Regions from separate parts of the Homo sapiens genome. Here regions 1, 3 and 4 are each linked to region 2. The links come from fine-mapping of genetic effects on gene expression. A gene starts in region 2. Each other region holds a variant in brackets. All regions are shown on one strand. Distances are between the middles of the regions.

The links. PIP is the estimated chance that this variant, and not a neighbour inherited with it, causes the effect.
Region 1: its variant is the best candidate, but not a certain one, in a credible set for the expression of PAPSS1 in whole blood (TOPMed, PIP 0.85).
Region 3: its variant is the best candidate, but not a certain one, in a credible set for the expression of PAPSS1 in regulatory T cells (Bossini-Castillo 2019, PIP 0.87).
Region 4: its variant is the best candidate, but not a certain one, in a credible set for the expression of PAPSS1 in unexposed skin (GTEx, PIP 0.62).

Annotation. Positions count from the first base shown.
Region 1 is chr4:107,685,352-107,690,351 of GRCh38, reverse strand. It overlaps PAPSS1 (3'-phosphoadenosine 5'-phosphosulfate synthase 1), which reads left to right. Exons shown (of 12, transcript NM_005443.5): 4 at 3,175-3,313. Among named protein-coding and RNA genes, the nearest start is that of PAPSS1, 32 kb to the left of the region's middle. The variant T/G (reference allele first, on the strand shown) is at 1,880.
Region 2 is chr4:107,717,407-107,725,515 of GRCh38, reverse strand. It overlaps PAPSS1 (3'-phosphoadenosine 5'-phosphosulfate synthase 1), which reads left to right and starts at 5,282. Exons shown (of 12, transcript NM_005443.5): 1 at 5,282-5,396. The coding sequence starts at 5,337. RefSeq lists enhancers at 3,830-3,979, 5,970-6,029 and a silencer at 5,090-5,339.
Region 3 is chr4:107,746,452-107,755,226 of GRCh38, reverse strand. No RefSeq gene overlaps it. Among named protein-coding and RNA genes, the nearest start is that of PAPSS1, 31 kb to the right of the region's middle. The variant G/A (reference allele first, on the strand shown) is at 4,660.
Region 4 is chr4:107,589,161-107,597,935 of GRCh38, reverse strand. It overlaps LOC105377358 (a long non-coding RNA gene), which reads left to right and starts at 7,539. Exons shown (of 3, transcript XR_939059.3): 1 at 7,539-7,607. The variant A/T (reference allele first, on the strand shown) is at 5,321.

The sequences.
Region 1 (5,000 bases), 34 kb after region 2:
TCAATGGAATGTGAGACAGTTTGTTTTTTTGGGGAACTGTAGGTAGGTTGGTGTGACTGATATGAAGGATGATTGTGAGGGGAGATGGAGCTGATCAATTTGCAGAGGCTAGGTGGTGACTTCTGCACTGCTCAGAAAGGATTTTGCCCCAAAAGGAGTTAATAGTTTGAGATTATAACAGAGATTGGTATCATTGGGTTTGCATTTGAGTGAGGTCATCCTTGAAGCCTGGATTGAGACTGGTCTGGAGGTAGGAGACTAGCCAGGAGGCTTGCCGTAGCACCAGCTCCTTCAGGGAAGAGGATGTGAACTCAAGCAGCAGCAATGGGACTAGTAAAGATGGGGGCATATTTAAGGGCTCTTGAGGCTTGAGTAGCATCAGTAAGACCTGGTGCCTGCTTGATTGCTGATTTTATGGGAGAGCAGAATGAAGCATGGTGCTTTCTGAATAAAGGTTGGTATGACTGAGTTATGAAGTACAGGATAGGAGGGGAGGACATGCGTATTTCATTTTTGGTGGGTTATGTTTGAAGTGCTAGTGGAGTTAGTCTAAGTGGAGATTACCACTGGGCCATCTAGGAAATTGGTTTTAGAGTTTAGGAAAGTTGTATGGGATTGAGATCTAGATTTAGGAATCATTAACTTTATTAGTTGAAACCTAGATGAGGACGATTAGATACAGAAGAGTAATAAGATGAGAGACAGGGATAGAAACTCATTGACACTTTCCTTTAAAAGGATAGTTAGAATAGTAAGATCATAGCTTAATTGCTATTCCAGACACTAAACTTGTAAAGCTGATGAGATGATTTTAATATACTGGAAAAAGATCTATGATCATATGTAGTGAGTATTCTGAGAACCCTGAGAAAGCAAGGGGCCTCATCAGCCTGAGCATGCAGGGAAGGCTTCCTGGAGGAGGTCACCATGGAGATGTGCTGTGAGGAAGCACATTGGTTTGTCCAGAAGAGAGGGGTTGAGTGTTGCTGGTAGGGGTTGGGTTGTGGCGTGGGGAGGCCTAAGGTAGAAACAGCCTGACCAGGCAGGTATTATCAATAGAGCATCAAGTGCAAGACTGAGAATGGTGGGGCCAGGTATAGGGCTGATGCCTCACATTAAGAAACTCGGATTTTACCCCAGTAGTGGCAGAGAGTCTCTGAAGAGTTCAGTAGGATGGTCAGATTTGCATCCTTTGCCACAGTGTAGATTATGGCTTTGAGCAGATCCGAGTTAGAAGCCAGAAGACCTGTAATATGTTGAGGCCGTTCAGACAAGAGAAGTGAGGTTGAACTAGGGAATAGGGAAAGATTGCAAACTGGGTTGGTGTAATATTTAGAAGTAACATCTGAAGGACTTTGTGACTGAATTAATGTATGGGAAAGGGAAGGAACCACTCTTAGGATTGTGGGTGTGTAGTGTGGTCTTCCTTGATTTGGGAAGCATATGAGAGAATGTAAACTTGAGAGAAAAGGGACTGGATTTAGTTTTGGACATGCTTAGTTTTTGGCACCTGTGATATATCCAGGTGGACATAGGAAGAATTTGGACATGTGTGTTTAATTTCAGGACAGAGGTCAGGGTTCAAGCTTCAGTGTTGATGTATGTGTTGTAGTTTATACTGTGAAGGCACTTGAGAGAAACGCTCAAGAACTGTGTAAGGTGAGCAGTGGGCTGTGATGGGAGTGTGGGCAACTCCAGTGTTAAGGGATGGGTGAAATAGGAGGAGCCCAGGAGGAGTCTGCCTAGGAAAGATCAGGGAATAACATTATAGGCATCCATAGGCATAGCAGTGGGAAAGCAGCAAAGAGGCCTGGTATTTTAAATACTGAAAAGGACCTATGGTTAAGGGAAAGTTTTTATATGATTTGTTAGTTCATTA[T/G]GCTGAAAATTTTTTTAGAGACAAGATCTCACTCTGTCACTCAGCCTGGAGTGTAGTGACTATTCACAGGCACAATTGTAGTGTGTTACAGCCTGGAACCCCTGGGCTCAAGTGATTCTCCTGCCTCAGCCTCCCCAAGTAGCTGGGACTATAAGCGTGCTACACCACTGCCCTTAGCAGTTGTTTTGTTTTAAATGGGTGAACTTCCCTTAGCAGTTCATTTGTTTTAAATGGACTTGTACTTGTTTGTTGCTGGGGAGCAGGGAACCCAGCAAAGGGGGAATGCTGAAGATTTCAGGTGGAGTAGAGAGAATGGGTTGAACAGGTCCTGTAGGAGTTCATGAAAGGGGAGGGAATTCCTAGTATGTGAAGGTAGGAGTGGCAGGGAGAAAAGGATCATTAGTATGTAGATAAATTTGTATGACAGAGAAGAGATTTTGCTTGAAAGAGAAGAGATTGAGAGCTTATTCTTGGAGATTTGTTTTTTTTTTTTTTTTGAAACATGAAGTATGGTAATCTGGTGAGAGTGGAAGTAGGTGAGGATTGTCAGAGGGACCATAAGGAAGATGGCAAATGCTAAAATGAGCTGTGTGGAAAAAGGATGGTAGAAATTGCAGGGACCAGCTTTGAAAATATTGGCAACTGCACTTTGATTAATGGAGTATAAATGTGGAGCAAAGGGAGAATCAGGTTTTGAAGACCAGAAAGAAGAAAAGGTTGATTTACAAAGGAAACATTGTTCCAAAGGACAGAGTGGAGAGGGCTTAGAGGGAGCTGCAAGGGTGGTTACTAGAGAGTTGGGAGTTAGGAGCAGAAAAGTTAAGTTTGGGGAGTGTTAGAGAGGAGAAGTGGCTGCAGGGGGCTTGCATTTGGCAAAGAAGTAAACTAGCCTCAGGATTCTGAATGGATCTTTTTTGTGAAATTGCTTTCATGCCAGCTCAGGCTGGGTTTGAATGTGATATTAGAGAGAAGCCTGATGACACCAGCATTCAGGCTGGGCTTTGGCTCAGGATCCACGTAGAATTTGAGTGAAAAAGTTTGTGGTACATTCATTGTTTTCCTTCTGTACCTCCCCAATATCCTGGGTTAGTAGAACAGTATGCCTTTTAAAATTGTCATGAATAATAGGAATTAACCTAATAATTTCTTGGATTTTTTTTTCAGTTTATATTTAAAAACATAAATTTTGTCTATTTCCCACTAAATTGGATGAGAAGCACTTTTTACTCATCTTTAATATTAATATAGTACGTTTGTGATTTGTGTGATCACTTTTTATTTTATTTTTTTTTAAGGATCGCAACAATGCAAGGCAAATTCATGAAGGTGCAAGTTTACCGTTTTTTGAAGTATTTGTTGATGCTCCTCTGCATGTTTGTGAACAGAGGGATGTCAAAGGACTCTACAAAAAAGCCCGGGCAGGAGAAATTAAAGGTCAGTAATATTTTCTTCCCAGTTTCACTTTGCTTAGATATTTTATGTTCCCATATCTAGGATTGATATTTTCTAAGAGATTGGAAGTGTTAGAGTGACTTGGAGCTCCTTGAGGAGAGAATGTAGTCTTATTACACTGTTCTATCTCTCAGGCATAGCAGCAGTGCCTGGTGCTGGACTAAATGAGTCTTGTTGATCCTTTTGGAATCCTGTTCACTAGCCAGAGTTGGGGCTCGGGAGTTGGCGAAAACCTACTTGATAAAATTAGGTGCCTAACATTAAGTTGGACATCAGTTGCCTGCTGCCACCAATTCTACTTTCTTTGTTCCAGGGAAAATGGAGGAAATCCCATAGCTATTGGAAAAAATGCCTGAATTATAAGCATCTTGATGATAAGGATAATGCCTTGTACTTTATTACGATCCTTGGAATGGTCCCTTATTCATTTCATGTACTATTGTTGAATTAGATTGAATTAACATATCACTGATTCTGTTAAAATATATACAGCTGACCCTCCACATCTGTGCATTCCACATGTGTGGTTTCAACCAACCGTGAATTGCATATATTCCAGAAGAAACAGTATAAAATAATACAGCAATTTAAAAATAGTATAAATAACAAATATAGTATAACATCTATTTATATAACATTTACATTGTACTAGGTATTATAAGTAATCTAGAGATGATTTAAAGTATATAAAAGAATGAACATAGGTTATATGCAAATAGTACACCATTTTATGTAAGGGACTTGCACATCCTCACATTTTGGTGTTCACAGGGAGTCCGGGAACAAATCCGCATGATTACCAAGGGACAGCTCTACACCTTGCTTTTTAGGTTTTATGGTCCGCTTCCCAGAGTTTCAACTGTGATGGACATTTAGACATTGAGGGAGAAATTTAGAACCCAACTCTGCTCTGGCCTTTGATATTAATCATACTATTTATCTTGTAGACATCCCTTGACTTGTCCTGTTCCATTATTGTTAACAGAAACAAAGGACTTGCTGGCAAAAACAAAACAAAAACAAAACGAAACAAAACAAACAAAAAAACTAACTAAAGATACCATTGTTTAGGGATCAGTGAGTCATGCAGGTAACTTTTAAGTTTGCCTTCCCAGCAGGGAATGTGATAACCTGAGACTGTCACAGAAACTCCCAGGAGCTCTCTCAGAGATAGATTTTGGCATTCAGTTTCTGGCCCTGAAAACAAAAAGATACAGTGGGAAGGAAAATGGTAGTTATTCTGGGTTCTTCTGTATTTGAACCTGGGAATGCTTTGGCAATTAGGTCAGGTTCCATCTGCTGTAGTAGCATTAGTTCCATGGGCAAGGCTGACCTCCGGTAATGCCACTATGGAGAATCAGCTCCTTGATGGGGACTGCTGCCTGTCAACCCTCTACCTCATTAAGCTGTTACTTTCTTGACTCAGAAAGATCAGGCTGCTTAACCAGAATAATTATGACAATTGGAGGAAAACCTGTTTAGCCCTTCAGCTCCCATATTACTCTCTCAATGGCCAGTTTTCACTTCAGTCTTTGTGTAGAAATTTGGCACAGAAAAGCAAAATGGTGTGTCCAGGATCCTAAATAAAGTCTAAACCTTTTACTTACTTTAATTTTAGTTGATTTTGTTGTTTTTGAAAGAATGGATTGGTGAGGGAGGAAGGTTTGTC
Region 2 (8,109 bases):
CTATGGGTCATCAAGTCATTATGTGACCTCAACTGCCTATCATGAACTGTGTGCTTTCTGACCCATCTGGCCATAAAGTGAGTCATGCACAGCAGCATTCCATCAGCAAATGGAAGTGGTATATTTGTCATAGGGCTTGAGCAGGTCCTGAAGGCGCAAGTAAGTTACATGAGGAAGTGGCTCAAATGCCCATGGTCCCCATTCCTGCCACCCTGCCTTCTGTCCCCCAGCCTGCACTGATGGCCTCATGGGGCGTTCCCTATGATCAGTTGACAGAGGAAGAGAAAATCAGGGCCTGGTTCATAGATGGTTCTACATGATATGTAGGCACCACCCGAAAGTGGATAGCTGCAGCACTACAGCCCCTTCCTAGGACATCCCTGAAGGACAGCAATGAAGGGAAATCTTCCCAATGGGCGGAACTTCGAGCAGCGCACCTGGCTGTGCACTTTGCATGGAAGGAGAAATGGCCAGATGTGCAATAATACACTGATTCATGGGCTGTAGCCACTGGTTTGGCTTAATGGCCAGGGACTTGTAAGAAGCATGATTGGAAAATTGGTGACAAAGACATTTGGGGAAGAGGTATGTGGATGGACCTCTCTGAGTGGTCAAAAACTGTGAAGATACTTATATCCCATGTGAGTGCTCACCAACGGGTGACCTCAGTGGAGGAGGATTTTAATAATCAAGGGGATAGGATGAACCATTCTGTTAACAGCACTCAGCCTCTTTCCCCAGCCACCCCTGTCATTGCCCAATGGGCCCATGAACAAAGTGGCCATGATGGCAGGGATGGAGGTTATGCATGGGATCAGCAACATGGACTTCCACTCATGAAGGCTGACCTGGCTATGGCCACCAATGAGTGCCCAATTTGCCAGCAGCAGAGACCAACACTGAGCCCGCAATATGACACCATTCCTCAGGAGATCAGCCAGCTACCTGGTGGCAGGTTGATTATATTGGACCTCTTGCATCATGGAAAGGGCAGAGGTTTGTCCTCACTGGAATAGACATTTACTCTGGATATGGGTTTGCCTATCCTGCATGCAATGTTTCTGCCAAGACTACCATCCGTGGACTCACGGAATGCCTTATCCACCATTATGGTATTCCACACAGCTTTGCCTCTGACCAAGGCATTCACTTTACCACTAAAGAAGTGTGGCAGTGGGTTCATGCTCATGGAATTCACTGGTCTTACCATGTTCCCCATCATCCTGAAGCAGCCGGGTTGACAGAACAGTGGAACGACCTTTTGAAATCACAACTACAATGCCGACTAGGTGACAATAGTTTGCAGGGCTGGGGCAAAGATTTCCAGAAGACCGTGTAGGCTCTGAATCAGCATCCAATATATGGTACTGTTTCTCCCGTAGCCAGGAATCACGGGTCCAGGAATCAAGGGGTGGAAGTGGAAGTGGCACCACTCACCATCACCCCTAGTGATCCACTAGCAACATTTTTGCTTCCTGTTTCTATGGCATTACATTCTGCTGGTCTAGAGGTCTTAGTTCCAGAGGGAGAAACGCTGCCACCAGGAGACAAAACAATTCCATTAAACTATAAGTTAAGATTGCCACCTGGACACTTTGGGCTCCTCCTACCTCTAAGTTAACAGACTAAGAAGGGAGTTACAATGTTAGCTGGGGTGACTGACCCAGACTATCAAGATGAAATCAATCAGTCTACTACTCCACAGTGGAGGTAAGAAAGAGTACACATGGAACACAGGAGATCCATTAGTTCGTCTCTTAGTATTACCCTGTGATTAAGGTCAATGGGAAACTACAACAGCCCAATCCAGGCAGGACTACAAATGGCCCAGACCCTTCAGGAATGAAGGTTTGGGTCACTCCACCAGGAAAAAAAAACCACCACCTGTTCAGGTACTTGCTGAAGGCAAAGGGAATACAGAATGGGTAGTAGAAAAAGGTAGTCATCAATACCAGCTATGAGCACATGACCAGCTGCAGAAACGAGGACTGTGATTGTCATGAGAATTTCCTCCTTCTTTTGTTAAAAACATGTTTGTGCATGCATACACTTGTACTAAGAAAATATCTTCATTTTATTTCCTTTTCCTTTATCATGTGATATGAGATTCACTGACTTCATATCAGCATTTAAGTATTGTTAACTTTATGTAATAGTATGTGAGTTGGGGACTGCATTTCCAGTTGTACAAAGGACAGTTCAGTTATGTTAGACATAATTATGACCTTATTATTGTCTTATTTGAAGATTATGAATGATCTCAGGAGATGTGTATGGGTTCAAGTTGTCAAGGGGTGGACTTGTGATGGTTAATACTGAGGGTCAACTTGATTGGATTGAAAGATGCAATATTGATCATTGTCAGGTTGTTACCCAAGGAGATTAACATTTGAGTCAGTGGGCTGGGGAAGGCAGATCCACCCTTAATTGAGTTGGCACCACCTAAACCGCTAACAGGGAATATAAAGCAGGCAGAAAAACGTGAAGAGGCAAGATAGGCCTAGCCTCCCAGCCTACATCTTTCTCTTGTGCTGGATGCTTCCTGCCCTTGAACATCGGACTCCAAGTTGTTCAGTTTTGGGACTTAGACTGGCTCTCCTTGCTCCTCAGCTTGCAGGCAGCCTATTGTAGGACCTTGTGATTGTGTAAGTTAATACTTAATAAACTCCCATTCATATGTATATATCCTATTAGTTCTGTCCCTCTAAGGGAACCCTGACTAATACAGAGGATCATTGTCTTTATCCATTATTTCAGTAGAAAATGAAAAGTGGTGATATTAAAATGATATCATTTCTTCTTTATTTATTAGTGGTACTTCTGTAAAGAGAAACTTCTCTTTATCAATTTTTTGGGTCCCAGACAGTCCAGGGAAAGCAGAGTAAATGCTTAATTCATCCCCTTTATTTACCAGTTTTCAAAATAATGAGTTGGTTTCCTAGCATTCTCTAAGAGTGACAATAATTTTTTTTAAAATCATCATCATTACAAACACCTAGATTTAAACATATTTGATATGTTTTAATATTTTGTAGTTCTAGTCCATTTAGTGCTTTAATTCTCCCATCTTTGACATGGAAAAATTTCTTTAAATTGGTTTCTGAGTCCTTTTGACATAATCCGAGTAGCTTTTGACAGTTTTTTGTTATGTTTCCTGTTTGATGTTTCTGGCTCATTTGCATGACCCATATCTGGAATCATGAATTTGGATGGACAGTATCAATGTAAACTTATGATATATTTTACCTTAAAAAAAGTCTTTTACTAGAAATAAGGTCAAACTCACAGCAGTGAGCACTCCTAGAGCCAGATCGTTATATCTAAATACCATTTCCCTCTAATAAGAACCAGAACTCAGAGCAATGGCTAACTTCAGATGTGGCCCTATTTTCTCATATGAAGCTTGAGATCTTCTTCCAAGCTCATTCCTGTTATTGGCAGAATTTGAAATTATATTGAAATTCAGTTCTATGTATGAACCCCAGATTGAAAATTCCCTAGAAAAAAAGCTGAAGGGAACCATTCACATTTTAAGTAGTCAAGTAACAAGATCAGATTTCTGTTTCAGAAATACCGCTCTGACAGCAGGTGCAAGAATGGGGTGTGTGGCGGGGATGTGGAGAGCGGCTGCACAGCTGGGAGGATGTCCAGTGAACGGGCTTAATGATAACTCAGGCTGGATATAGGGGAGGCCTAATTTAAGACAGTAGCAGTGGGGCAAATAGATGGAGGGCTGATTTGCTAGTCACTAACAGGCAGCAGCCTCAGGTCTTGGTGATGGGGGCTGATTTGCTAGTCACTAACAGGCAGCAGCAGCAGCCTCAGGTCTTGGTGATGGGGGCTAATTTGCTAGTCACTAACAGGCAGCAGTCTCAGGTCTTGGTGATGGGCGGGGTCAGGGGCGGAGGGCGGCTGTGTCACAGGGGGGCAGAGCTGCAAGCAACTCTTTTGGTGCCAGGGGCAAGCTGCGGAAAAGAGAACTCAGAGTTATGGGGGGTGTGGGGAAGATAACTCCTGGAGGAAACTCTGTCATGCCCCCAGCCCATCCTCCTACGAACTAGCCCTGGAATAATTAGGTGAATTTGAAAATGTCCTCCGTAGGCGGGAGTTCTATTCGGGGTTACCTGCGGCCTCCCCGGTCCTGGATTTCAGTCCTCTAGGTATTTCCTGAGTAGCTCTTAATAATACAGAAGCCCCTTTCCGGTGTAGGTCGGTAAGAAGCACTGCACAGAAATCTGATGCGAAGTGGGGTCTCCTAGCGGAGAGGGAGGCACCTTATAAGTAATCACTAATCCAGGTTGAGATATTAATTATTGATGTCAAGAAATCGGGCTTTTATTATATCTTTTTAAAAACTGTGTCTTGAGGCCAGGCGCTGTCGCTCACGCCTGGAATCCCAGCACTTTGGGAAGCTGAGGCGGGCGGATCATGAGGTCAGGAATTCGAGACCAGCCTGGCCAACATAGTGAAACCCCGTCTCTACTAAAAATACAAAAATTAGCCGGGCGTGGTGGCACACGCCTGTAGTCCCAGCTACTCGGGAGGCTGAGGCAGGAGAATCGCTTGAACCCGGGAGGCAGAGGTTGCGGTGAGCCGAGATCCTACTACTGCACTCCAGCCTGGGCGACAGAGCAAGACTCCGTCTCAAAAAAAGAAAAAAAATTGTGTCTTGAGTAGAATTTTAATGTGGAGAATGAGCTGTTCGGTAAATCAATTCTTCCCTTTGCAAAGCTGTAAAACATTTAAAACATTTGGCCAGGGTGACATGGGCACAGAAGGGGCAGACAGGAGGTCGGCAGCCAGGTCTGTGGAGGAGTAGCCACAGGTGCAAGAGGCCGCGTCAGCGTCCTCCCAATCAGCCTCTGCTGAGGGAGTGCCGCGCGCGGCGAGCCGCGCACTCCCCTTGCCTTTCTCCCGGCGGCTGGTACTCGCTCTTAGAGATCTGCGTTAGCTCAGAGCTAGGCTCGGTGCCGCAGAGGCACCTGAGGTTCCACGACTGCATTCCAGGCCCCGCCCCTTCATCGGGATCTGGAAGGAGGAGCGCCGTGCGCGCCCGCGCCGGCGCGAGCGCTGAAGCTCCGCCCCCAGCTTCTACCTCCGGTTCTATCCCGGCGTTTCGCCCTTCCCCACAGACCTCTGCCCCGGACCCATTTCCGAGGCGCGCCGCATGCGCCGCGCAACCCAGGCCACGAGCACGGGCGCGTGCTTAAGTCAGCGCGCGCCCGCTCCGACGCGAGGAGGCCCCGCCCTCCAGCCCCGCCCCGCTCGCTGGCCTGCCCTCCTCTTGCTACCCTCCCGGCGCAGAGAACCCCGGCTGCTCAGCGCGCTCCGCGGTCATGGAGATCCCCGGGAGCCTGTGCAAGAAAGTCAAACTGAGCAATAACGCGCAGAACTGGGTAAGCTGGGGACGAAGGCGAGACGGCGAGGAGCGGAGGGGCTGTGGGAGCAGCTCGTTCCGGAGCCGCCGCCTCTCTCCCGCCTCCTCCGCATCCATCCTTCCAGGAGCGCGGAGGTGGGTTCCGGGGCTGCGGCGCCTCCCGGCTGGGGCCGTGGGTGGTTGCGAGGCAGAGGGGCGCGGCGCAGGGTGGGGATCTCGCCCTAGCTTGGCGCAGCGTGCGGTCCGAGCCACCGTTCGTGGGAAGAACGCCCCCCCTCCCCAGCGCCTCCGCTCAGGTAAGACCCCCAGGAAAATCCTTCACCCGTGAACTGGCGCTTGCTGAAACCTCCGGGTGCTGAAACCTGCGGCTGCAGAAACAGGAGCTTCCTGCATACCTTGGAGTGGCCTGAAGATGTGCAGAGAAGGCGGAGGCGGGCGCCTTCGACGCGTTCTTGGTTTTTCTTGGCTCTGCCAGTGCGGTTGGCCCAGGTTTGGGTCCATCTCCGTGTCTTTCCATTTCTGAGTTTCAGTGTGAAAGGAGAGTACCCAACAATGTGGTCATTCATGAGTTGAGACTGCCCTGAACTGAGGTTCTTTGTGTCTCTGTGTTAAATCGGAATGTTTAACAAGTAGGAGTTTGGAAGACTCCATTCCTGGTGACAGTCAGGTATGGGACCAGTCCTTTATAACGTTTAGTAATGACTGCCAGTTGACTTTGTAAAGTGCTGTGTCCTCATAACGTTGCTTACTTCCTTAATTTCTCTGTGATGAGAAAGAGCCTTATCTTCCTTTGTAAGTGTGCAGCAGGGAAGGGCCCATCTTTGGAGTCTGGAAAGGCACTGGTTTAAGTTTAGACGGAAACGTTATTTCACAGTCCAATGGAATAATAAGGTTTAAATGCAATGTCTCCCAAAACGTTACTTGCCCTAGATGAATCAAAGAAAAAAAAAACAAGCAATTTCAGGCAAATGTTCTTTGGAAGTCATTAATTTACCACATCTGTTGTTATTGTTATCATGAGTTGTTTACTGATTCCTCTCTCCTTTTATTTAACTCTATAGATGGTAAGGAGGGGAAGGAGATTTAAAAGATGAATTAGAACAGTGGAAAGAGCGCTGGACTCCTGGCCTGGTCTCTCATCCCAGCTTTGCCATTTACTAGCTGTGTGATCTTGAGGAGAGTCACTTTACTTTTTCGAACCTCAGTTGACTTAAGGGTATAATAGTATGTACTTCACGGGATTGTTTTGATGAACAAAGAAGACAGATCATGAATTTGAATGTGCGGTGAAACCACTGCCTTGAAACTCAGACTCAGTTTCGCTTCTCTTACCTTAAGGTGTTTCACGGTTAGGGAAATAAGGTTGGCTTACTTGGGGTATTTACAGATGATTTCTGTTACATTGTCCATTTATGTACTCATTTATTTATTAACATTTGCCACATGGTGCGTATTCTATGTAGAGACTTGTGCTAGACATGGTGGTGAAAAATGTGGGACTTACTGCTTGCCTTCTGGTAGTTCATGGTTTGTGTTGGGGTTGTGACATTTGCCAAGTGGTGAATATGTCTTTGTGGTCCAGAGTGAGTGGCGTAAGACAGAAGTTTTATTGCAATTTAGAGGAGAGATTAGTTTCGCCTGGGCGTTTTGGGAGGGTTTATGGAGGATTTCAGATTTCTGAGTCAGAGGGGAACTGCATGGATAAGTGTTGGGAATAAAAATTACTATTTTTTTTACTCCAGAAACATTGACGAAACTTGTTTGACTGCCCTGGAGAGTTTTTGTTGGGAAGTGGAGGTAAGGTTCAATAGGGAGGCTGGGGCTCCGTGATGCTCTTGTGTTTGGCTGCAGAGAAGACTTGATTCTATGGGGGATTTTTGATGGGGCTAGAATTTTAAATTTTCTGATCCTTGTAAATTTTTCTCTCCCTCATGGAACACCCGTCATCTCTTCCTCTCTCATATTTAAATCATCTTAATAGGCACAAGTGTGAAGAACCCATATACCTTTAAAATTCCTATCACAGGATAAAATTGGTAATCCAGGAAGAATGTTCCGCTGAAGAAATGTAGACCCTGGTAGGACCCAGATGGGGAAGCCCTGGAGACCAGACAAGGTTATAGTAAGGTTTAAATGAATTAATAGATTTGAAGCCTGCCTGGCACATGAGCACTATTTATGTTCTTGTTAATTCATCCAGTGTGAGGGGCTGAAGGGCTGGGGTAAGGTGGCAGTGGGACTAGAGGAGTAGCTGCATTAAAAACATTTAAGGAAGAGTTGAGAGGACCGACTAGATTTAGGGGATGAAAAAGGGAGGAATGTTAGAAGATGATCCTGAAGTTTTGGTCTGGGAAGTGGGGAGAAAGGTTGTTACCTGTGTGGAAATTGGGAAGTAGGTTGGGCACGGGGGTAAGGGTGATATTAGTTAAACACAAAGGAGAGTTTAGTGTGTGCCAGGAACAGTTTGAAATGTTTTACCTATATTAGCCCATTGAGTTTTTGTTACATTTCTGAGGGTGAATATTATGAGAGACAGTGGTTAAAAGCAGGACCCTGGAGCTGACTGCCTGGGCTGAAATCTGGACTCCACTATTTATTAACTATGTAACTTTTGGTTGGTCACTTAATTTCTCTATGCCTCTATGTGCTTATCTATAAAATGAGAATGATAGCCTCACAGGGATATTGTGACAATTAGAGTTAGCTCTTACTGTTATCATCCTCTATTACAA
Region 3 (8,775 bases), 29 kb before region 2:
TAAATGTTTTGCATATAATGCATATTTGACTTTTAAAATTATGCCGTTAATTACTCCCATTTTACAAATGAGAAAATTGAGGTACAGAAAACTTGCAAAGCTGGTAAGTGGCAAAACTGTGATTTGTGTAAACCAAGAGACTGTCCAATGTCCGTGTTCTTAATCTAGGAGGGCTATACTTATTCCTACAGTAAGTACAGAATTTAGGTTGGGGTCACTGTATAACATTCAATATAAAGTTTAGTCAACTATCCAAATAATTTTGACCCAATTTTATTATTAGGATCTAGTGTCTGCACTGGTAAACTCATCTAACGATTGCTCAGTTTTCTCTTTTACACCATGCTATACTTGTGGTAAATTTCAGTACATAAATTTGTCTTTCCAATATAAATATTTTAATACTCCTCTTTCATTTGTAGAGTATGTACATTAACTTCTTTGATAGCAACGGTAAATTTCTTCTCTGCAAATCTTGGTCCTCTTTGTTATCTCTGGTACAGTTATGGTCACTGTTACAAGCTGATCTGTGTCTCTGCCAGATTTATATGTTGAAGTCTTAATCCTCCAGTACCTCAAAATGTGACTGTATTTGGAGACAGCGTTTTTAAAGAGGTAATTAGAGTGAGTCCTAATCCAATATGACTAGCGTCCCTATAAGAAGTGGAAATTTGGACACAGATGGCTGCAGAGGGAAAACCATGTGAGGACACAGGGAGAACATGGCCACCTGGACAAGGAGAGGGGCCTCAGAAGAAACCAACCCTGAAGACTCCTTGATCTCTAACTTCTAGCCTCCATACCTATGAGAAAATAAATTTCTGTTGTTTAAGCCACTTACTCTGTGGTAGTTTGTAATGGCAGCCCTAGAAATTTGATACAGTCACTGTTTCAATTAGGGTCTTTGTTTACAAATTAAGATTCTTGCTAGTTTAAGCAGAAAAAGGATATTTCTTAAGGAATATTAGATAGCTCAGAGAGTCTTTGGAGGGTTAAAGAGTTGGGTTTGGAGGCTATGCAGTCAGAAACAATGCTCTAACCACATTGTGAGATTGTGGCAGTAAAGGCTCTGATGCAACTGGACACTAAAGCATACACCACTCACTCTGGATATGAAACATCAGGAATTCTGTCATTCTGACCTTGAGAGATGACATCTCAGCAGCTACCTATGCCAAAATGTGGATTTCCTTCAGCTCCTGCCTTGCCATGTAGCTCATTTCTGGGATGATGTCTCACATGGGTGTGTGTGATTGGGGTAGCCTAGGTTATATGCCTGTAGCTTCGCCGCAAGTGAGTGTGGCAAAGTGAGCTTTCTGGCTTCTACCATGTGGAGGTGGATTAAAAGGCAGAAAGTTGCCTAGATGTGGAAAGGGTGCTCAAAAGGTGATGCTAGGTCAGAAAAGGCAAAGGAAATCAACTGTAAAACTTCAGTAGTATGATTTTTTGGCCAGTTGCTCTTTGCTACTGTCCCTGAGAGCTAGTTATCTTTTCCACAGTCCTTAAACTTTTCTTGAATCTACTTTTTTTTTAACTGAATAAACTCTCCCTTCTCTAGAATTCAAATAACTATCAAGTACAAATAACTGAATCTTCCCACCCCATCCTATTGTATACCCTTCTAAGAAAGAAATTAAGCAGGTTAATATGAAGGTGCTATTTGTCAAGTATTTATCCCTCCCAATATTGGTAGAAGAACTTCCAACTTTCCTTAGTGAATTATTCCATTTTCCATCTTTTCTTATCATTTGTGTGGGAATAACATCTCCTACTGTGCAGCCCCTCCCCAAGTTCCAGAAGACCTGTGGCTTAGTCTGGCCAGTCAGAACATTCCATACACTGCCCTCACCCCAGCCTTGTGATAAGTTCTAGAATAGGTGGGTTTATTGTCAAGGACAGAAAGATAAGATGCAGTCCCTGGACACCTCCTAGCATGACAGACCTGCATCTCTCTGGTTCCTGTCTTTCTGCTGAAGTTTTTAGTCTAGGATGGCAGCCTGGAACAGCTGCGGGCCAAACTGATATTCCTCATTAAAAACTTTTTCCAGAGTAAAGCTGACACAGATGGACGGAGAGCTGAGGGATTCATAGAAACAATCCTCATGTCTTCTGAGCATTCAAACCAGCTGTGTTAGAAGTTTGTACTACATCTAAACTTTTCAGTTCTTTATGCCTATAAAGACACTTTCGTCTTAATTGCATTTGAATTGTTTCACTCACTTGTGACCAAAGGAGTCCTGACTAGTTTGATTGGTTAAAGAGTAATCAGTGCAGATTTTCCCCCCAAATTCTGTTTTAACAGACATCTATAGTATCTCTACCTTGATGTCCAAGTGAAAAAATAACTTGGTCTTATTTTTATACAAGTATGTACATAAGTATGTATTGTGTATACCTATACCCCCATACTCCTCCATGCATAGACACAAAGTAAAAATGGAATTAACATATCAAAGATTTTATCCATCTTGGGTTCTTTCTCTTTAGATAAAATATCATTTTTTTAGGATTTGATGAGAGGTAAAACATATTTGCATATGTTTTTCTGTAGTTTTTGCTTTATCTAGGTTTACTCCTGTCATGGTTAATTTTACTGTCAACTTGACCAGGCTAAGAGATGCCCACATAGCTGGTAAGACATTATTTCTCAGTGTGTCTGTGAGGAAGTTTCTGGAAGAGATTAGCATTTGAATTGGTGGACTGGGAAAAAGAAGACACACCTTCACCCATGTGGGTGGGCATTGTCTAATCCTTACAGAGCTCAGTAAAACAAAAAGATGGAGGAAGGATTAATTCACTCCCTCTCTCTCTACTTCTTCTTTTCCCCCCAGAGAAGGTCAGGTCTCCCTCTCTCTCTCAGGTTGGAAGGCAGTGGCATGATCATGGCTCACCACAGCTTCAACCTGTAGTGATCTTCCTGCCTCAGCCTCCTGAGTAGCTGGGACCATAGGCATATGCCACCACATCCAGCTAATTTTATTTTTTGTAGAGCTCGAGGTCTTGCTATATTGGTCTTGAACTCCTGGCCTCAAGCAACCCTCCCACCTTGGCCTCCCAAAGTGCTGGAATTACAGATGTGAGCCACTGTGCCTGTCCTCACTCTCTCTTCTTGAGCTAGTGGATTCATCTTGTCCTGCCTTTGGACATCAGAGCTTCCAGTTATTGGGCCTCCAGACTCAGAACTTACACTAATGGTCTATCCTGGTTTTCAGGCTTTCAAACTTGATTGGGAGTTTCACTGTCAGCTCTCCCAGTTCCCAAGCCTTTGGATTAAGGCTAAATATTTACACCAAGGGCTTTTGTAACTTTCCAGTTTGCAGAGGGCAGATTGTATACACACATTATGTCCAACAAATCACAAAGTTAACGTAAAAAAAACTAGAAGAAAGGAAAACATTGTGGAGCATCACAGAGAAACTTTCTGTTCTTCAAACCAGTGAGTCACCGTACTCATATCTATAGTTTCTTCAGGGTACTCTTTCATGTCTCAGTCAGTTTATTATTTATGCAGAAACACAACTAGAGAGCAGTTTCTTGATCTATTCAGGTATAGTACCTTTAATGAAATAATTACTTCTAAGTAAATTTAGATTGAATTATAGTGATCTGTTTCCTTTAATACAACGGTTGCTCTTAAGATTAGCATAGTAGAATCTAATTTATGATTAGAAGGTAAAGGAAAGTTAACACTAGGCACTGTATGCTAACCAATGAGGTAACATAGAGTACTACTGTTGCTTGATAGAAATAAATTCTTATAGGAACCAGAGAGATGCCAGTCTGCCTGAATTATAATACTTCCATTAAATATGTGTTATACTCCAGCATTTGTCCTGGAATTGTCAGATGAAAGACAGATCAAAAGGTCAAAACTGAAGAATTGAAGCCAACATGTTAAAAAGAAACACAAAACAAAGTAGACAACCCTATGATAGCCTCCAAACACTTGGTTGAAAGAAATAGGAAAAAAATGCCCTCTTTCTTCCAGTTTTTCCTTAAACAACATTATTAACTTTGTGCTTTATTGGACATAATGTTATTTAGTGCATCTTTTTGTATTCTCTTGAAATGTGTTACTGTAATTCCAAAATGAAAACTTAGTCTTAAATATTTAAATTCTTATTAAACAACTCTGCTTAGTCATTTGCATATACTAAAACATCTGTATGAAATAATTTGTGTAAATATCAGAAAGTCATGCCTAGTAATGTTAACCAAGAAGAATGCAGCTTTAATGTAAGGACAGAAGAACTGTGATTTAGGATCCTGTGCATCTTATGCTACTAGGCTGCTCAGCCTAGAAAAGGGTGAGTTCTAAAATGGGGAAGATTCTCACCATTATAACATAGTAATGCAACATCTGGGCTTCTGAGTGGCTTGCTTGAAATGAATGTGTGGGTTTTTTTTCAGGACTCTGCATCACAAAAACGCAGGATATTATAACCTACTCGGTATTTTGGACATCGAAGGAGAAAAGGACTAGAAGTTATGGGAAGGTTGAGCAAAAGAGAAGGAGAAAGGAAGAGGATGAGGAGGAGAAGGAGAAGAGAAGAGGAGGAAGAGGAGGAGGAGAAGGAGAAGGAGTACTGTGTTTCACTAGTGCATTTTACCTTCTGCACGGTAAATAATTAGTACCCCCAAGCTTATAAATAACAGGAT[G/A]GTGTCCTCTGACTAAAATTAGGGCTAGTTTTTATGTTAGGAATTTATAATTTCCTAATTGCTATTGAGATTTCTTGCAGCATAAACAAACAGATGTGCTTTTAATTAGATTAGCCTCTTATAAACAAATGCGTGTCTCAAGTTCAATCCAATTTTTTCTTAGTTTCTTATTGTATGCAAGCATTTTAATTTGTTTACTGCAAGAAATATGTACAATTAAATTGGTTTCTCTGTGATTAAATATTTTATAACTTTTATTTGATTTTTAATTTTTACTGATAAAGAGGTACAAAAGTAAATGAATGAAAATTATTATAATAAACCATGAAATTATTTAAGTCTCTATAAATAAATGATATTTAAAGTATTTCCTCTAAAATGGGTCATTTCTGAAATAGACATATGTGTTTATAAATGTAATCTTGGTGCAATACATTGTTTATGTAGTAATTTTTCCAGAATAGTTAATATTTTTTTAACTATTGCTGCCTAATAAACTACTTCAAAACTTAGTGGCTTAAAACAACAAGCATTTTATCATCTCACACAATTTTGTGCATTGGGCATTTGGCTTGGACATACAGAGAGGGCTCATCTTGGATTTGCTTGATAGCTACTGGGACTGGGACATCCAAGAAGGCTTCTTTACTCCCATGTCTGTCACTTCATCTAGGATGGCATGAATGATGGCATCTGGCTAATGCTCAACAGGGTCATATATCTGGGACTTCGGTTCTTCCTGCAGGGTGGGTTCCTTGGTCTTTTCCAAATAGTCTGAGAACCTCTTTTTCTCCATGTGGCCTCTTCATGCAGTTTTTCCAGCAAGGTAGCCACACTTCTTAAGAGGCTGTGAAGCTTGAGTCTGGAACTGGCATACAGTCACTTCTACCGCATTCTGTTGGCTAAGTAAGTCGTCACAAGTTCAGCCTGGATTCAAAGTAGGTGAGGACTACATAGGAGTATGAATACCAGGATATGTGGTTCATCAGGGGTAGGGGGTAACTGTGGAGACTAGCTACAATACATGTGTCCTTTGACAGTGTGATTTCCTGGATCTTCAACTGTATACTTAAGTGTCTCTCAAGATGTATGTTTTGTGTAATATGAGGCTTAAGAAATGTTTTTCAGAAAAAGAGCACTCGTATTATAAATTTGAGAGATAGTACAATCTATAGCCCTTCACTTGGGCTCACTGGCATGTTAAAAGTGGTAAGAGTTTTGCAGCATAAAAATCTGTTTAATTTGTGTAACACAGCGTTCCTCAGATATTTAAGAGTATAGAACTGTGCCTGGAACTTAGTAATCATTCATAAATATTTGTGGAATGAAATTTATCAGAAGATCCTTTTTCACAAAATGCACACTGCATTCCCAATGAAGTGGTGTTTCCACTGAAGGAACTTTGGGAACACTGGTCTATTATGGAAAAGAGTAGTATGTGATTCATTTTCTTCCTGACCCATGGCTTCTATCTGGGTGTTTCCTAGTGAATTGGTTGTTGCACTTTAAATGACATGATCCCATCTCCTGGTCCCAGGTGACAAGACCCAACTGAGCACCTGACCCAAAGGCAGCCATTCGTAGCTCAGCCAGCAATGATAAGGAAGCCTAGCACAAAATCTTTCTAAAAGGGGGAAGATTCTCACCATTATCAAATAGTATTGCAACATCTGGGTTTCTGAGTGGCTTGCTTGAAATTAATGTGTGGGTTTTTGAGGACTCTACATCACAAAAACTCAGGATACTGTGACCTACTCAGTGTTTTGGAGCCCCCAAAGAGAAAAGGACTAGAGGTTATAGGAAGGCTGAGCAAAAGGGATGGAGAAAGAAAGAGGATGAGGAGGAGAAGGAGAAAACATGAGTAGCTTAAATTGGATTGTGATAGGCAGATCAAATTATATCTTCTCTTTTGAGTAGTTTGAATTTGAGAAAATCAGTCAATTAGTTGGTAGGGGTAAGACAAATAGCAGCAGAAGCTAAGAGTAACTGAGTTTCCATTATATGCAGTCCTAGGGTGCTCTGCCTATTTTCTGGTTGTGTGGCTGCTGAAAACACCTCCTTTCCCCTTTTCTTCCCTCCATCTTTAGAATAAAACTCCATTAACTGACACAACCTGTCTCAATTTCTTATTATGGGAAAGAGTCTAACTGTACGTAACATCAGGAAAAGAGTATATGCACTCTTGTTCAGAGTGAGAAAACACTCCTTCAGTTGTTTAGCTCGGGGAGAAGTGCCACTACTACATGTCCCTTCACCAATGTGCAAGCCCAGTGGGGACTTCTATTGGGAAACCCAACTACAAGTCATGCTGGTAAACCAGCTGGTTAGGCAGCTTTTTCAACTGCTGGAGGAAATGCTTTTGTCAATAGCTGCAGAAAATAAAAATTGCTCTAGGTGAGAATGTTTCTTTAAAGGATCTCTGAAATATATGCTGAAAATTATAGTTTTGAGCATGTTATTTCCCCTGGATGACTATCGGAAAATAATGAGAAAAGTAATTATTTAATTAACTTAAATAGAAGAAGGAGGCAATGAGTGGAAAGAGAGAGCACATGGACACCCATGAAGCTGGAACTGTGCCAATGTTAACTAATTACCAAAACAGAGCTATCTAGGGAACAATGGAAAACCAGGAGATAGGTTCTGCTGGCATGCTCCCTAGTCTGAGTATACGGTGAAGTCAAAATGCAACCACTCTCTAGGATATTTATTAGAAAGAGGGAGCAGGTAATATCACCCAGATAATTCATTTTAAGTCCACAGAAGTGAGAAGAAGCAATAGAATACTGATATAACACCATGTCAATCACTGGTAAGGCGGCATTAACGAAGTTGAGATGCCAGAGGTAAACAGAATTTGCCAGCTGTTGTTGTTTGAAAAGGTTCAGTGGATGTTGAGCATTTGAGGATTTAACATGAGACAGAAGCATATTTGCATTGGGCTGCCAGGATTCTTTTTTAAAAAAATAGTCTTTTTTGGGGCAATTTTAGATTTGTAGAAAAATGAAGCAGACAGTACAGAATTAATACATACCCCCAAACCCAATTTTTCCAATTGTTAACATCTTACCTTAGTATGGTACATTTGTTATACTTAATGAACTAATATTGATGCGTTATTGTTAACAAAGATCAAGTTTGTCAAGATTTCCTTAGCTTTACCTACATTTTCTGTTTCGGGATCCCATCTAGAACACGACATTATGTTTATTTGTCATATCTCATTAGTCTCCTCTTGGCTATGACAGTTTCTTAGCCTTTCTTTATTTTTGATGACCTTAACTGATTTGAGGAGTACTGTCCAGGTATTTTGTTGTATCCCACTGTTGGAATTTATCTATCTGCTATTTTTCTCATATCTCAACTGGGGTTATAGGTTTTGGAGAGAAAGATTACAAAGGTGCAGTGTCATTTCATCACATCGTGTCAAAGCTACATACTATCAACGTGATTTATTACTGTTGATTTTGATCATATTGTTGAGTGAGTGTTCGCCAGGTTTCTTCACAATAGAGTTACTCTTTTTCACTTGGTTTCTATTATGTATTATTTGGAAGGAGATATGCACAGCCCGTATTTAAGAAGTAAGGATTTATGTTTCTTTCCTTGAGAGCAGAGTATCTATATAAATTAGTTGGAATTTTTCTGCATGGGATATTAGTCTCTTCCATTTATTAATTTATTTAGTTGTTTATATCAGTATGGACTCACTTTATTTTATACTTGTGGTAATCCTGTATTACTTTATTTTTATTGCTCAAATTGTTTCATCTTTGACCATTGGGAGCTCTTTCAGTTGGCGCCTGTGCTCCTTTCACAGGCTCATACAATTATGGTAGTATTTTGTTTGTTTGTTTTTGTACTTCCTTACTTTCTGACACTACAACATGCCCCAGGCTCGTCTTGTATGTTTTCTGTCCTAGTTCTAGAATCAGCCATTTCTCCAAGGAACCCTGGTTCCTTTTGTTGGAAATGGTATTAAAAGCCACTGTGGCTTCTAACTGATATTTTATTAGAAACACCAAGATCTGGGCATTAGGTGTACTTGTTGCTACTGGGGTGTCATTGCTTTTGAGCTGTCTCAGCTGATAAAGAAATATATGTGCATATAATAAT
Region 4 (8,775 bases), 130 kb after region 2:
CTGCAAATGCATTTTCTTGATTTGGATTTCAGAATTTATGAAGAATAGCCCTGAGGAAATAATGCTAATTGCTAATATTTGCTGTGGGTTGCAGTGTGTGAGGTATTGAACATTAACTCTTCTAATATTCACAACCCTATGGTGGAAGGTAATGTTGTTGTCCCTGTTTTACAGATGAAAACACTGAGATTTATAAGTGACTTGCTTGAAGTCACATGTGGTGGAGTTGAGGACGGGAACCAAGATATGGCTGATTCCAGAGTTTGACTATATGTGAGACAGGCTTCCACTGAGGGATTTGGAGATGTCCAGAAATGCAAATTAGCCCTTTGAGATGAGTAGGCTTTTTTTAATTAATGGGAAATTAATGGGAAAACCTCAACTTTTTTTAAATATACTTTTAAGTTCTAGGGTACATGTGCACAACATGCAGGTTTGATACATAGGTATACATGTGCCATGTTGGTTTGCTGCACCCATCAACTCATCATTTACATTAGGTATTTCTCCTAATGCTATCCCTCTCCCAGCCCCCCACCCCCTGACAGGCCCCAGTGTGTGATGTTCCCCGCCCTGTGTCCAAGTGATATCATTGTTAATTTCCCACCTATGAGTAAGAACATGTGGTGTTTGGTTTTCTGTTCTTGTGATAGTTTGCTGAGAATGATGGTTTCCAGCTTCATCCATGTCCCTGCAAAGGACATGAGCTCATCCTTTTTTTGGCTGCATAGTATTCCATTGTGTATATGTGCCACATTTTCTTAATCCAGTCTATCATTGATGAACATTTGGGTTGGTTCCAAGTCTTTGCTATTGTGAATAGTGCCGCAATAAACATACGTGTGCATGTGTCTTTATAGTAGCATGATTTATAATCCTTTGGGTATATATACCCAGTAATGGGATTGCCAGGTCAAATGGTAATTCTACTTCTAGATCCTTGAGGAATCGCCACACTGTCTGCCATAATGGTTGAACTAATTTACACTCCCACCAACAGTGTAAAAGCATTCCTATTTCTCCACATCCTAAGAGGAGTAGGTTTCTAAGGATAACAATATCATAATGAAACAAGAATAATAAATAATTGAACATCTTCTGTATGCCAGGTTCTGTATTAAGTGCTTTCTACAACTTACCTCATTTTCTTCTTGCAATAAACTTATGACACAGTTAGAATTCCCACTTCATAGATAGGAAGGCTAAAGCTTGGAGAGATTAGGGGAATTATACAAGATCATGAAGTTAGTAAAAGACAAAATCAGAGCTGAAGTCAAGCTCAGGAATCCTGCAAAGTTGACCTACAGGAAAACCTCCAGGGGCACTTCTTTTGCTCTTCTCTGGAGGTCCTCCTTCTAATTGCTGTATCAATATTGTCACAATGTGGGATACTCCCTACATGCACCAGGAGCATACACTGATGCAACCTTACCGCTGAGTGTAGGCTGCTCTGAGTGGACCCTAGTTCATATGTATTTTCTGATTCTGATAATATGCTTGGAGTTGAGGCCACTTCGTAATCCAGATTTGCAGTGTTTTCTGAGGTGTTATCTGAAGACCTCCTGAATCAGAATTACTTCTGATGCTTGATAAAAGTATAAATCCCTGGACCCAATGAATCAGAATCTCTGGAGAAGTGCCCTGGGGATTCGTATTTGTAAGAAGCCCATGCTTGATCACCTGGTGGCAGAGTTCCACAAGCAAGAGCAGAAGCAGGCAAAGAGTCTAGTGGGCCAGGTTTGAAACGGGCACTGTGGTGCTTCTGCCATGCTCTGTTGGCCAAAGCAAGGCACAAGACTACCCCAGATTCAAGGGAAGTGGAAGTAATTTCTCTCTTCGAAAGGAGCTGCAAAGTCACATTGCAAAGGATAGAAGGAAGGAGATATTTTATGGTCATTTGCTTTATTACAACTGGGAATCACACCAAGCAGTGGGCTTGACAGTGCCCCACTCCACTCATTCATTTACAACATCCTATCCTGATGTATTGCCCTCTTTCTGATACAGACTGTGTGGGTGCACTTAGTTTTACAAAAATTAAATAAAAGAGTAGATGTTGCAATGAGATGGGAAGAGATTGTGAAAATCTTTATTACCATAAAATTTTCTCTGCATTTATCATGGCAAAGTACTGAATAATTAACTTAGAGATGTATAATTTGCATCTTTTTAAAATGAAAAGACAAGTGTTCCAGATTTTCTGTTCTTTTCTGTGATGACAAGTGTCTGTCAATAGTATGCTACCCACCAGACCTTTTTTGAAAATATAAACACACTTAATTCATCCCCTAAGTTTAAAGTAATGTTTTAACAATGAATGTAAAAGTAATTGCTTTTCAAAAGAAACTCCTGCTATGAACAAAGCATTTTAAAATTGGATGTTTGGAAATGTTTCCATTGTTCCATGATTTTACTGCCAAACAATGTGTATGTGTCCCATACAAATTTTCTTATATCTAAACTTAAAAAATTGACAAGTAAATTTTTTGTCTATTTAAAAACATATTTCAAATAAAGAGTTACAGTGGGTTTTCAAACTGTTTGATAATACAAGTTTAGTATCCCTTATTTGAAATGCATGGGAATAGAAGTGTTCTGGATTTTGGATTTTGGAATACATGCATACACTTAATGAGATATCTTGGAGATGGGATCCAAGTCTAAACACGAAATTCATTTATGATTATATACATCTGCACACATAGCCTGAAGGTAATTTTATCCAATATTTTACATACTTTTGTGCATAAACCAAGTTTGTATACATTGTACTATCAGAAAGCAAAAGTGTCACAATCTCAGCCACCCATGTAAATAGTCTATGCTGTTTGGCATCACCATCATTCCTGACTCTGAATTTATGTGCTACTAAAAAGCAATCATTTTCTTATGCTTGTTCACACGCAAGTACTTAACAGTAAAAAGTATGAGATACCATGAGTGCAGTGAAAAAATAATGTGTTCAGGGTAACTAAGCAGCACAGTAGCATCACCAGAAAACCTGTATCAACTGTTAAACATCAGCAACCACCAACAGCAGCAGGCTTTCGGTCTCCACCGATGATGTTGTGTTTTGACTAAAAGCTTAGTGCAAACTGTATTTTATTTTTTTATCAGAAGCAGTTAAGAGACCAGGAAGTGGTAGGTTGTCTAGGGATAAGGAGCCATTCTTCTGGATGGCTTTTCTTCTTTTTGAGACAGAGTCTTATTCTGTCGCCAGGCTGGAGTTCAATGGTGTGATCTCGGCTCACTGCAACCTCTGCCTCCTGGGTTCAAGATATTCTCCTATCTCAGCCTCCCGAGTAGCCGAAACTACAGGCACCTGACACTACACCCGGCTAATTTTTGCATTTTCAGTAGAGACAGGGTTTCACCATGTTGTCCAGGCTGGTCTCGAACTCCTGGCCTCAGGTGATCCAATTGCCTTGGCCTCCCAAAATGCTGGGATTACAGTTGTGAGCCACCACTCCTGGCCTGATGGATGGCTTTTTAAAATGTTTCCTCCAGAGTCTTCTGATTCATTAACAATGATATTTGTCTTCAAAGTCTCTCTTTGATTTTATAAATAGACATGACTCTTGTTCTGTTATTAATGCACACTGCTCTAGTCTTTCAATAACCCCATCACATTTTCACCGCATTGTCCACAGGCACTTTTTCTTCAGTGTTAACAACTTCATCTTCATTGTCACTTTTATCCTGATCATCCTGATTCAGAACCATTTCAGCTATTTTACCATTGATCAATGAATGAACAACTGGAGACTCTATCAATGTTAAAAACTTCTTCAATATCCACTTCTTCTAGCTTACTGATGAACACTGAAGGTATATCTTTTTGAATATGTAAGGAGGTCAGACATCATTTTTTCTCACTTGATATATAGAATCCTTCAAAGTCACCAACTTTTTTATCATCCTCACTGAACAGAGTCACAGACCAGAGGTTGTGCCAGGCATGCACAGCTATGTATTAATCACTGTGTTCCAAGGGTTGGTAACAACATATCCAGCAGCCATCATGCTAAACTCCTTTTGAAATCTTCCACATCCATGCCTCTTTTCACTGCTGTAGCATGCTGTTCAGTAGAGTGTTTTTATATTTACTGTTCATTGATCTAAGGATACCCTGGTCACAATTAATGAAGTCACATTTTGGGGGAAAGTACAGGGCATAAGCATTTTTGATGAGAACTTCAGCTGGAGGATGAGCAGAACAGTTGTCAAGGAATAACAAAATCTTGCAGTCATCACCCAGTCTAGCTTCCCTGCTCTGAGCATAAGATGCTGGTGCAAAATGTTTGTGAAAGCAAACGGAAAAGATGACCCTGGTGATCTATGCCTTTTTGTCAGCATAATAATGGACTGGTAAGAAATTCATTCCTTGGAAACAGAAAGGACACAGCTTTTCCCTATCACATCAGGTTTACTTATGCATGCCTGCAGCATTAGCACAGCCCAGCACAGATGGGACTTGGGTCCCATCTCCAAGATATCTTGCATACACAGAGTAGTGTATGCAAATATTCTTCTGTCCTTGGCCTCCTTGATTCCTGTAGGGGCTGTCTCATCATCTGCAGTCAGTGACTTTCTGGCTCAATAAGGCCAAAACAGTGATGTTTCATCAGCATTATAGACTTGTTCTGGTGTCAAATTTTCCTTGGTGATGACCTTGGCAAACTTGTCAATGAATTTCTCTGTTGTTTCATGTTCAGCAGATGCTTTATCACTACAAATATTTAAAAAATTTAATGCAACATTTTTTCTTAAATTTCTACAACCAGCCTGTTGAATATTCACAATTCTCTTCAGTTCATCGTGATAGATCTTTGCTTGTTTTATGATCAGCATATCATTATATGCATGTGTTTAATGCAATACTGGTGGATCCATTCTTTCAATACATAATCAATATTTTCATTTTTAGCTTTGCACAGTGTTTTTCTATTTTCATTAATTTTTGTTCATCACTTTAGGCATAGAACTTCAGCAGTTTATTTGTCTGTTGCTTCACGTCATAAATACTGGACATTCCAACACTGTGCTCTTCTGTAAGACATTTTACAGTTACACCGCTGTCCCCTTTCTCCAACAGTTTATCTTTCTGTGCTATAGATAAACATAAATGCTTCCTGTTTCACTTGTACACCGCTGTCCAGTTTCTCCAACAGTGTATCTTTCTGTGCTATAGATAAACATAAATGCTTCCTCTTTCACTTGTTACCATGATCATAGGGTATCTGCAGGCCTTTTTGACATGTCCAACAGTATCTTTACATCAGAGAGCAAAGAATAAGCAAAAAAACAGTGAGTAATGCAC[A/T]TAGGTCCTGGTCCATGTGGGTCATTGCAGGGAATCTGCCATTGGTGCATTCACCCTGCACAAGTGGCATTTTATTACCCTTTGCAGGCATGCTTGCATGGGGAAGTGTGGGCATGCATGGAAAAAAATATGTTGCAGCTGAAGAGGGCTGAGAGGGTCTTTTTTTCTTGGGGACACTGAGTAAACTGTGCTGTGCACTTACATTTCCACTGTGACCCATCACATTAAGTCAGGTGTGGAATTTTCCACTTATGACATCATGTCCAGTGCTTAAAAAGTTTTGAACTTTGTAGATTTTTAGATTAGGGATATTTAATCTACAGTAAGAAAATACAATATTTTCTGATTTATTTATAAGACAACAGACTGATATCATAGAGATAAAAATTTACGAGATGTATTTTAACAAAAATATTGAAAATTGGTGAATGCAAGTAAAAAAATAAACTTCAGGGTTTACAACCAATAACGTAGTTTTTCCATGTGGATATAAATATATGTATAATAAACTTTTTTCAGATGATAGCCATTAAAACTCAGTGATATAACAAAGTGCTGAACTAAGCTTTAGAATATAACAAGGTATTATATGTTACTTTGTGTTTACCTAAACCATTAATATTAATGTTAATTTTTTAGGATAAACATAATATTTGAGAAACAATACATACAAATTGAATTTATTTAAAAATATGGATTTTATAGGTTGAGTATCCCTAATGTAAAACTACAAAATCTGAAATGCCCTGAAATCCAAAACTTTTTGAGTGCAAACATCATGCTACAAGTAGAAAATTCCACACCTGATCTCATGTGAGGTGTTGCAGTCAAAACAGTTAAAACTTTGTTTCATGCACAAAATGATTTAAACTATTGCATAAAATTACCTTCAGGCTATGTGTACAAGGTTGCTATAAAACATAAATGAATTTGGTGTTTAGGCTTGGGTCTCATCCTCAAGATTTGCATATATGTATGCAAATGTTACAAAATCTGAAAAAAATCTAAAATTCAAAACACTTCTATTTTGAGCATTTTGGATAAAGTGTACTCAAACTGTATCTTTATCTCATCCTTTAAATTTTCTATTAAAAGATAATTAGGACTATTAGTACAATTGGCACATGTATAAAAATAAATGATCACACTCATTAGGTTGGTTATTATTTAAAAAAAACAAAATAACAAGTGTTGGTGAAGATGTGGAGAAATTAAAACCTTAGTGCATAGCTCATGGGAATGTAACATGGAGCAGCAGTTGTAGAAAATAGTACAGTGGTTCCTCAAAAAGCTAAACTTAGAATTACCAAAATTCAATTTCTCAGTATGTACCTGAAAAAATTGAAAGCAGGAACTCAAAGAGATTCTTTTGCACCAATGTTCATAGCAGCATTATTCACAGTAGCCTAAAGGTGGTATCGAAAGACAAAATTACAATAAATTTAGTTTAAATATCTTAATTAGCTTTGATTCACAATTCTGGAATTGGGCAGCCCTCAGAACCAGAATAGATTCTAAGAACTCTGGGACCCCAAAGTGGTCAGATAACATTTATGGATGGAGAACAGATGTAATGCACAGTCAGCTTAGTTGGTTACAGCTCAGTGTTTTGCCTTATTTGAATGAGTGGGCCACCTGCAATTGACTGAAGCTCAGCTGCTGTGATTGACTAGAACTCAGCCAGTTGTTAGAAGAGTTTATGTACTCCTAAATTAAGCTTTCAATTAGTAGTCTGTCTACCAATGTTGCAGTTTGCCACATAAGGACTCAAGTATAGAGGCAACCTCAGGCCTAAACTTAATTTAACTTAAAAGTAGAAATACCCAAACGCTCACCGATACATGAATGAATAAAGTTTGGTATAAACATGCAGTGGAATATTAATTTGTCTTAAAAAGGAATGAAATTTGGATACATGCCACCATATGTATGAAATTTGTGAACAGTACGGTAAGTGAAGTAAGCCCATCACAGAAAGACAAATATTGTATGGTTTCACTTATATGAGGTACCTAGAGTAAGCAAATGCATAGAGACAGAAAGTAGAATGCTGGTTTCCAGGGTCTTGGGGAAGGGGAGAATGGGGATTTATTGCTTTATAGTTTTTGGTACCCAGAATGTGGGACCTGAGGAAGGGTGAGTAAAATGGAGACCCAAAACCTTTTACTTTTGCTTCTGAGCCTTTTGGTCCTATGACATTCCTCTTATTTTTTTTCAGGAGAGTAATGGCACCTATCTTTCCTTTTACAATACTGGAGGTGGTCCACACCCGTCCCAGCAGCCACAGGTGGGTGCATGCATGGGATGGTTGGGTGGGACAGCTCCCTGTTCCCCCTTCCCTGCTGCCTGGGGTGCATGGCCATGTCTGCCACATGTGTGTGCAGTGTTCAACAGCTACTCAGGGCAGCAATAAGCCACAACTGCTGCCAGGGCCTTAAGGCACCCCACACGGCTGGCTGGCATTCCCTGCCATGCACCATGGAGTCTCCCAGTCCTTGGCCAGGGAGTCTCCCAGTCCTTGGCCAGGGAGTCCAGCTTTGTCCCCAGCAATTAAGCTTTTCTCCCTGGTGGAGGAATATTTACATAAGAATAAGAAGGTAAGGCCTGGGGACATATGGAACTAGCCACACCCTTAATTATGCTGGAAGGGGTCAAGCCTTGGCTGCATGTAGCATATAATCAAAACAACGTACCAGGTTTTACATTAAAGTTAAAAATTGCTAAAAGTTACCATTATGACATATAATTGAGACTACGGGAAATAGATTTACATGCAAGGTGTGTGAGAACAGTAAAATGTGTTTTTAATAAAAGGTTATAAGAAGGCTTAAAAGTGTAAATTCTTGCCTAGGGTTAAATAATTGTTTTAAATTAAGTAGGATGAAGTTAAAAGTTCAAACAAGTGATGGGAGGATTGTAAAAGTTAATCTTGCAAAAATTCCATGTGTGAACATACTGACTAAATTCAAAGGGTATTATATAGTTTTTCTGTAAATTGAGCATTAAAATAAGCACACAAGGTACTCTTAAGGCACTCAACTGCTCTTTACCAAAATTTGTAAAGGGTTATAAAAGGTTTTTGCTTTTTTAAAGTTTCTGAGTCATAATTTTGGTAAAATAAATAATTTATGTAATCTGGAATTCTGTTTCATAACATCAAATGTTTTAAACCTCTAACATATTTAACAGGCTTCTTAAAATCAAACTTCAGTTTCAAAATTGTCTTTCCTGACACCTGACTTTTCAGATGCTTCAGAAGGGCCCCTGGAGTACACAGAAAAGAGATAAACAAGATTATTTGACATGTTTCATTACATGGGATTGCCAAAATGGTGTTCAGTCTTCTTTAGGCTATATTTTGTTGAATAATACTAATATGTGTTCCAAAATTGTCTGGGGTTTCTAAAATTCTAATATCTGAGTATATGCTATCAATCATAATTGAAGTTGTTATG